Linked DNA regions of Homo sapiens: region 1 is linked to region 2. Evidence: fine-mapped expression QTL. A gene starts in region 2. The other region holds a variant in brackets. All regions are shown on one strand. Distances are from middle to middle.

The links. PIP is the estimated chance that this variant, and not a neighbour inherited with it, causes the effect. A credible set is the group of variants that fine-mapping cannot tell apart.
Region 1: its variant is the best candidate, but not a certain one, in a credible set for the expression of GREM1 in prefrontal cortex (BrainSeq, PIP 0.63).

What each region holds. Positions count from the first base shown.
Region 1 is chr15:32,669,077-32,671,874 of GRCh38, forward strand. All of the region lies in intron 10 of ARHGAP11A-SCG5 (ARHGAP11A-SCG5 readthrough), which reads left to right. The region is part of intron 2 of SCG5 (secretogranin V); the gene reads left to right. SCG5-AS1 (SCG5 antisense RNA 1) reads right to left here. Exons shown (of 4, transcript NR_135505.1): 2 at 1-42. Among named protein-coding and RNA genes, the nearest start is that of SCG5-AS1, 2.6 kb to the right of the region's middle. RefSeq lists an enhancer at 1,106-1,638. The variant T/C (reference allele first, on the strand shown) is at 1,365.
Region 2 is chr15:32,716,989-32,719,786 of GRCh38, forward strand. It overlaps GREM1 (gremlin 1, DAN family BMP antagonist), which reads left to right and starts at 1,016. Exons shown (of 2, transcript NM_013372.7): 1 at 1,016-1,173. GREM1-AS1 (GREM1 antisense RNA 1) reads right to left here and starts at 1,877. Exons shown (of 2, transcript NR_109767.1): 1 at 1,557-1,877; 2 at 1,113-1,376. RefSeq lists enhancers at 522-1,022, 1,160-1,738, 1,739-2,316.

The DNA.
Region 1 (2,798 bases), 48 kb before region 2:
ACTTTAAGAGAATTATCCCAGAAATCCTCTAAGTTGCAAATCCTACAGGAGCAGAGTACTACATGTTAATTAGCACTCATTATCATGTTAGTAGAGAAGCTTACCCAAAGGAATGATACATAGGACCTGCTATGTCATTGAGAACAGAGAGGTGGGGCTCAGGTTCTGGACAAATGATGTCATAAGTAAGTGTAGTTTCAGAAAGGAAGATGAAGTGGGAGCTTTAGATAATTGGAGGCGGTAGGCCTGTATATGGAACCAGATGCTAGAGAGCCCAAGTCCATATTTTTACTTTTTCACAGTTTTGTGTCCATATCCTCACCGAATCCCAACCACCACCACCACAGTTCTATATCCCGTTATTTTTTCAATAATAACTGATACCTCAACTTAAGCTCCACTCTGACCCTCAGCTAAGCCATATAATTTCAGCAAGAATTATAAAATAAAGTTTTTAAAGGACAAACATGAGCCTTAACCTTAGTATAAAGACATGCTTAGCCTTCATACAAATTGCCAAGTTGAGACTTCATTTCAGACGGCAAATAAAAGTTACATGAAGGAGCTAAAAGTGCTATTGCAAATTACCTATTTGAAACGGCTTTTTCAAAACCTGCTAAATTCACACCTCTCCTAAAAATGCTTCACTTCCAGATTATTTTATTTTGGGGTTTTGTGTGTATGTGTTAGAGGGGGTGGGGTTTGTGGTGACTACAGAAAAATTAGTTAAATTCATAGGATAAAATTTGAACTTTTGCAAATGAGTAAACAGCCAAAACAAACACCGCTTCAGAAAAAAAAAAAAATACACGTTTTCTCCTTTTGGAAAGCAAGCAATGCTTAAGCAAAATACCTTAAAAGTTAACTAAAAAGCTTTTCTAAAATAAACAACTCTGCTTGTGATCCTAAATTGGGACCACATGTAGATGTGAAAGCTACAAATGCAGTGCACTCAGAATTTGCGTCTCTGCCTTCACTGTTTGCGTGCCTCTGAGTAGATGATGATAATGTTGGCTTTGGTCCCCAAGGAGCCTGAGTTTTTTAGATCCTAGTATGAGGGGGAAAAGCAGAAGAAGAAAGAGAAGGAATGAAAACAAATGCCTTTCAAGACAAAATATCCGAATGGGTTTCATTTTGCTTATCTGCCAACAGGCTCAACCCAATTTAGATCTCTCCTACAAGGACAGGATAGTGCCAGCCAGGGTGTCTGCCCTTGCCGGCTATGTGGGGCAGTCCCTGTGAGGGACCAGGCTCGAATTCAGAGCAGAAGGATCACTCTAGCAAACTGCCAGGGCCAGCCCTCTGCCCTGAGGCAAGTCAATGAATTAGCCAATTCAGCACAGATAGAATCATTCCTTTGTTTT[T/C]CTCAATTACCAAATGCTGTGTGCTTTGGGGGTCACTTGTCATGTGAGTTTAGAGAATGTGGATATTGCAACATAAACCCTCACCATTCTAAACAGCTTAAACTAAATTCTGTTACTAGGGAGGAGAGCTGAGGTGATAATATCCATCTCTAAGTATAAACTATTGTGTGTTCATTTTCCCATTATGGGAGACAAATTTCTCTTCTCCGCTAGTGCTCATGATCTCTTCCACCAGGCACAAACATCAGATGTGTGTTTATGTGGACATATTTTGTCCCCTATTATTGGAGAGCAAGCTCCTTGAGAGAAGGGATTATGCTGCCTGGATTTGTAACTTTGTTAGGCAAAGCATGACTTTATTTAGTTTTGAATTGATGAGGAGGCACTGATGTTAGTAAAAAGCTCAAATGTCCTGAGCCCTGTTGCTCAATACCTCAAACACAGGACCATGATCACCACAATGAAAAATATGCAGGATCATTAATTTCGGCTCTGTTAATTGTGCTGTTAGGAAATGTTGACTAGATAGGAAAAGCAGCTAACGTTCATGGAGTGCTTATTACATACCAGGTACTGAGGTAAGCATTTTACATACAGTATCCGATTTGTATCCTCCCACAAGCATGTTATCCCCGGGTTAAAAGGGGAGGAATTGGGGTCCAGTGAGATTGGGAGGTTATGAGAATCCCACAGTGTGTGGCAGAATGTGGACTTGAACTCAGGGCCCTAACAACAGGAAGCTATAAAAGCCTCTTTGTATAAAAAGTGCTCTCTTTCTGTGGGTCCTCAGTAAATGAAAATATTTGCTTTTCATAAATAGGTTTGAATGTTGGGACCCTCATTTCTCACCAGGAGTCAAGGCCAAAAGGTCTTATAAATAAGAGTGAATTTTGAGAAAGGATGTGTGAAAATGACTCTGTTCTTTTCTTTTATCTCACTTCAGTTACTTGGGATGGAGGAAGCAGAAACTGGGAGTCAGACATCTAAAATATGAAGTTCCACCCTCATGTTGGCCATTTCTTTCAGCCTCCTTTCCCCATTCCTAGGGGCCAATCTGTTTCTCCCTCTCCTGCTCTTTCTCTTTGCCTCTGTCTTCTTCTTTCCTGTGGAGACAATAGCGTGTGGTGGAACTGCCTGAGTGCTTACTGAGAAGGAGAAACCAAGCGCAGATTGTATAGAAGCTGACGAATGAGTCCTCTGATTGTGGACAAGTGATGGCGCTTTTTGTAAAATTGTGTATGTGTTTACCTCAAGTAGTGAAAAAAAAAAAAGAAAAAACAACTTTTGGGGCAAGTTGGACCTTAGGAAGGAGATTTCTGGGTCTCGGGGTTTCTCTTAGCCCCCAGTGCCTGGTGCCTGCGGCCGGTGTCGCCTCAGGGAGTCCCAGGCTGTTCTGTGGCCTCCAGAAGGAGCCACCCCGCCCCTTCCTCGCCC
Region 2 (2,798 bases):
ACTTACGGCCTCTTTGAGGAACCAATTTTTCAGGCTAAGAGAACAAATGAAAGTGTTCGCTCATCTTTCGAAAACTATTTATGTACTTGGTATCCGGAATGTGACATTGGTTTTACACGTCGGTAGGTTTTTGTCCTAAATTTCTGGGAAGTTACTTCCTCATCTAACGTTTTATTTTCCTGACTTATTCGTCTTTGATATGCTACAGAAAACCCCTCTCGCCCAGTGGCTGTTTTCTCTCTGTCTCTTAAGATAATTTAGGAACAGAAGCCTTGACTTTTGACGGTCATTTAGTTTTATTCTCCTCCCGTGACTCCCCTCTGTACACTCACAGGGGAGGCCGCCGGCATCTGGGCTGAAAGAACCCTTGGCGGGCGAGGAGAGCAGGGTGTCATGTTGGCGACAGGCTCCTGCTGGCGGCCAGCGAGCCCGCCAGGTTAACGGGGGCGCCGGGGTCAGCGCCCTCGAAGTTGGGGGCCTCGGGCGGGGCCGCCGGGGAGCCACGACGGCCGCTCGACCAGAGCATCCCGCAGTCCCGTTCCCTCCAGAGGGGAAGAATGGCCGAATCTGGCACGATCCCACGGAGATCTCGCTCTTCCCAGCGCAGTCTCCGCTACTGAGCGCGGGACCAACGCAGGCGATGCCGGGCGGCCGACAGGGAAAGCCCAGACCTGGGGCAGAGAAGGAATGAGGGGCCGCCAGCCGGGGGGATTTCCTCCCGCTCTTCCCTCTCCAACGGGAGCGGAAAATGTGATTTGCTGTGCATTCCAGGCGCGGTTCCCTGGGGTGACCTCTCCCAGCCGGCCCGGGCGGGGGGAGCAGACAAAGAGGCGAGGCGGGCGGAGAGGGGACCCCGCGGGGAAGCAGGAGGGGTGCGGGGGGCGGGGGCAGTACCGGGAAAGGGGGCGGATAGCGGGTCTGGCGGCGGCGGCGGCGCCTGGCCAATGGAGAGGCGCGGCCCCGGGCGCCGCGCTCTGCCGCCGGCATTTAAACGGGAGACGGCGCGATGCCTGGCACTCGGTGCGCCTTCCGCGGACCGGGCGACCCAGTGCACGGCCGCCGCGTCACTCTCGGTCCCGCTGACCCCGCGCCGAGCCCCGGCGGCTCTGGCCGCGGCCGCACTCAGCGCCACGCGTCGAAAGCGCAGGCCCCGAGGACCCGCCGCACTGACAGGTGAGCGCGGACGCACCCGGCAGGGATGTGAGTGGGCGGAGGGAAGAGGGCCGCAAACCAACCCAGGACCCGCTCAGTTCCACGCGCGGCAGCCCTCCGTGCGCGCAGGCTCGGGTGCGTTGTTCGCGGGGGTGAATTGTGAAGAACCATCGCGGGGTCCTTCCTGCTGAGGCCGCGGACACCGTGACCTCGCTGCTCTGGGTCTGCAGGGAAACGTAGGAAAAAAAGTTGTCAGGAGCGGGCAGGATGACCCCCACATCCCGTTTCCACCTCCCGGAGGCCCCCGAACACGCTCCTGGTGCTGGTGGCAGCAGCGCCTGGCAGACGCGCCCGCTTAGCGAGGGCGCGAAGTCCAGGCCGCCAGAGCGCAGGAGCATCCGGACCTGCTAGTCGGCCGCTGACTGCGCGGCGAGTTGCCTTGAGAGGGTCCCATGTGCTTGGGGCGCCGCGCTGGGTCTGGGGGCGTCTTGGGGCGCCCATTGGAGTCCGCGGGTTGGAGCATCCGGAGAATCCATGATGTGTGCATTTGCCGATCCCCGAGGTGAGATGGAGACTGGCAAGGGCAGAGCCGCTGTGTTCAGCCACAGCGGAAAACCGAACGGTGGGTAATCCGACAGCTGCGGTGCGGGGCGCGGCCCTGGCCGCGGGGTCCAGCGAACCCGCAGTGCTCACAAGGCAGACACCACACGCGCTCGCGGACCGGCCACGCACTCGCGGGCGCTCGCTTCTCTACTCCAGCCTCTTCCCCGCCCCGCGCACGCCCGGGCTGAATGGTAGACGTTCTGGCGCCGGGCAGCGGCCACCGGCTGGTTCCCACTTCCGCGCGCACCCCTTAAACTGTGTTCTAGAGGCCCCAGCCTCGCCTTGCAGCGCCTCACTAGCTCCTGAGGACTAGGGACTGGCGGCTGAGGCGGGTTGGCGGCTGCAACGAGCTGGGCGTCTTTCGTTCTCTCTCGCTGCCTGGCTGGCTCCGCTGGCCCCTCCACAGCTTGCGGAGCAAGGCCATAGCAGGGGAGTGGGAGGTATATTGGGGCTGTCACCTCCTTGCTGGCCGGAGTTATTTGTAGACTACAGACTCCGGAAGAACAGACGCGCCACCGCTCTCGCTTGGCATTGCCTTCGGATCGCAGCTCCTCCTTGGGGGTGCCCCAGCTTGGCGTTTATTTGCCTGCGCCAGGCTCTGGCGACGGTCACCGGGCCAGGCGGGGAGGGACGGACGGCAGGTGACCAGCCTCTGCTGTGAAGAAATTCCTGCGCGCCCGGAGCTGTCCCTAATGCATTCCCGGGTCGAATCCGTCTACTGCCTTCCCCTCCTCGACCGACTCCGAATCTCGGCTCTTATAGACAGAAATACAGCCTCAGCGTTAGGGGTTAAAATCCCCCTCTTAAACGGTCCGAGGGCAGAGAGGTGACCACCGATAGGTAATTGGATCTCCTGCTGGAAAGAGCAAATCTGAGCGGTGTGCGCGTCTGTTTATGTTCCCCTTCGAGATGGTGCCAGGACACGAACTGATTAAAACAATCTATTGTGTTAAGTGGGTCACTAGGGTTTTAAGCTGTCCCAGGGACCCCAGAGTAGTGGCTTCCTTCTGGCTGTACACACAAGTTAAATAAATAGCGTAGAA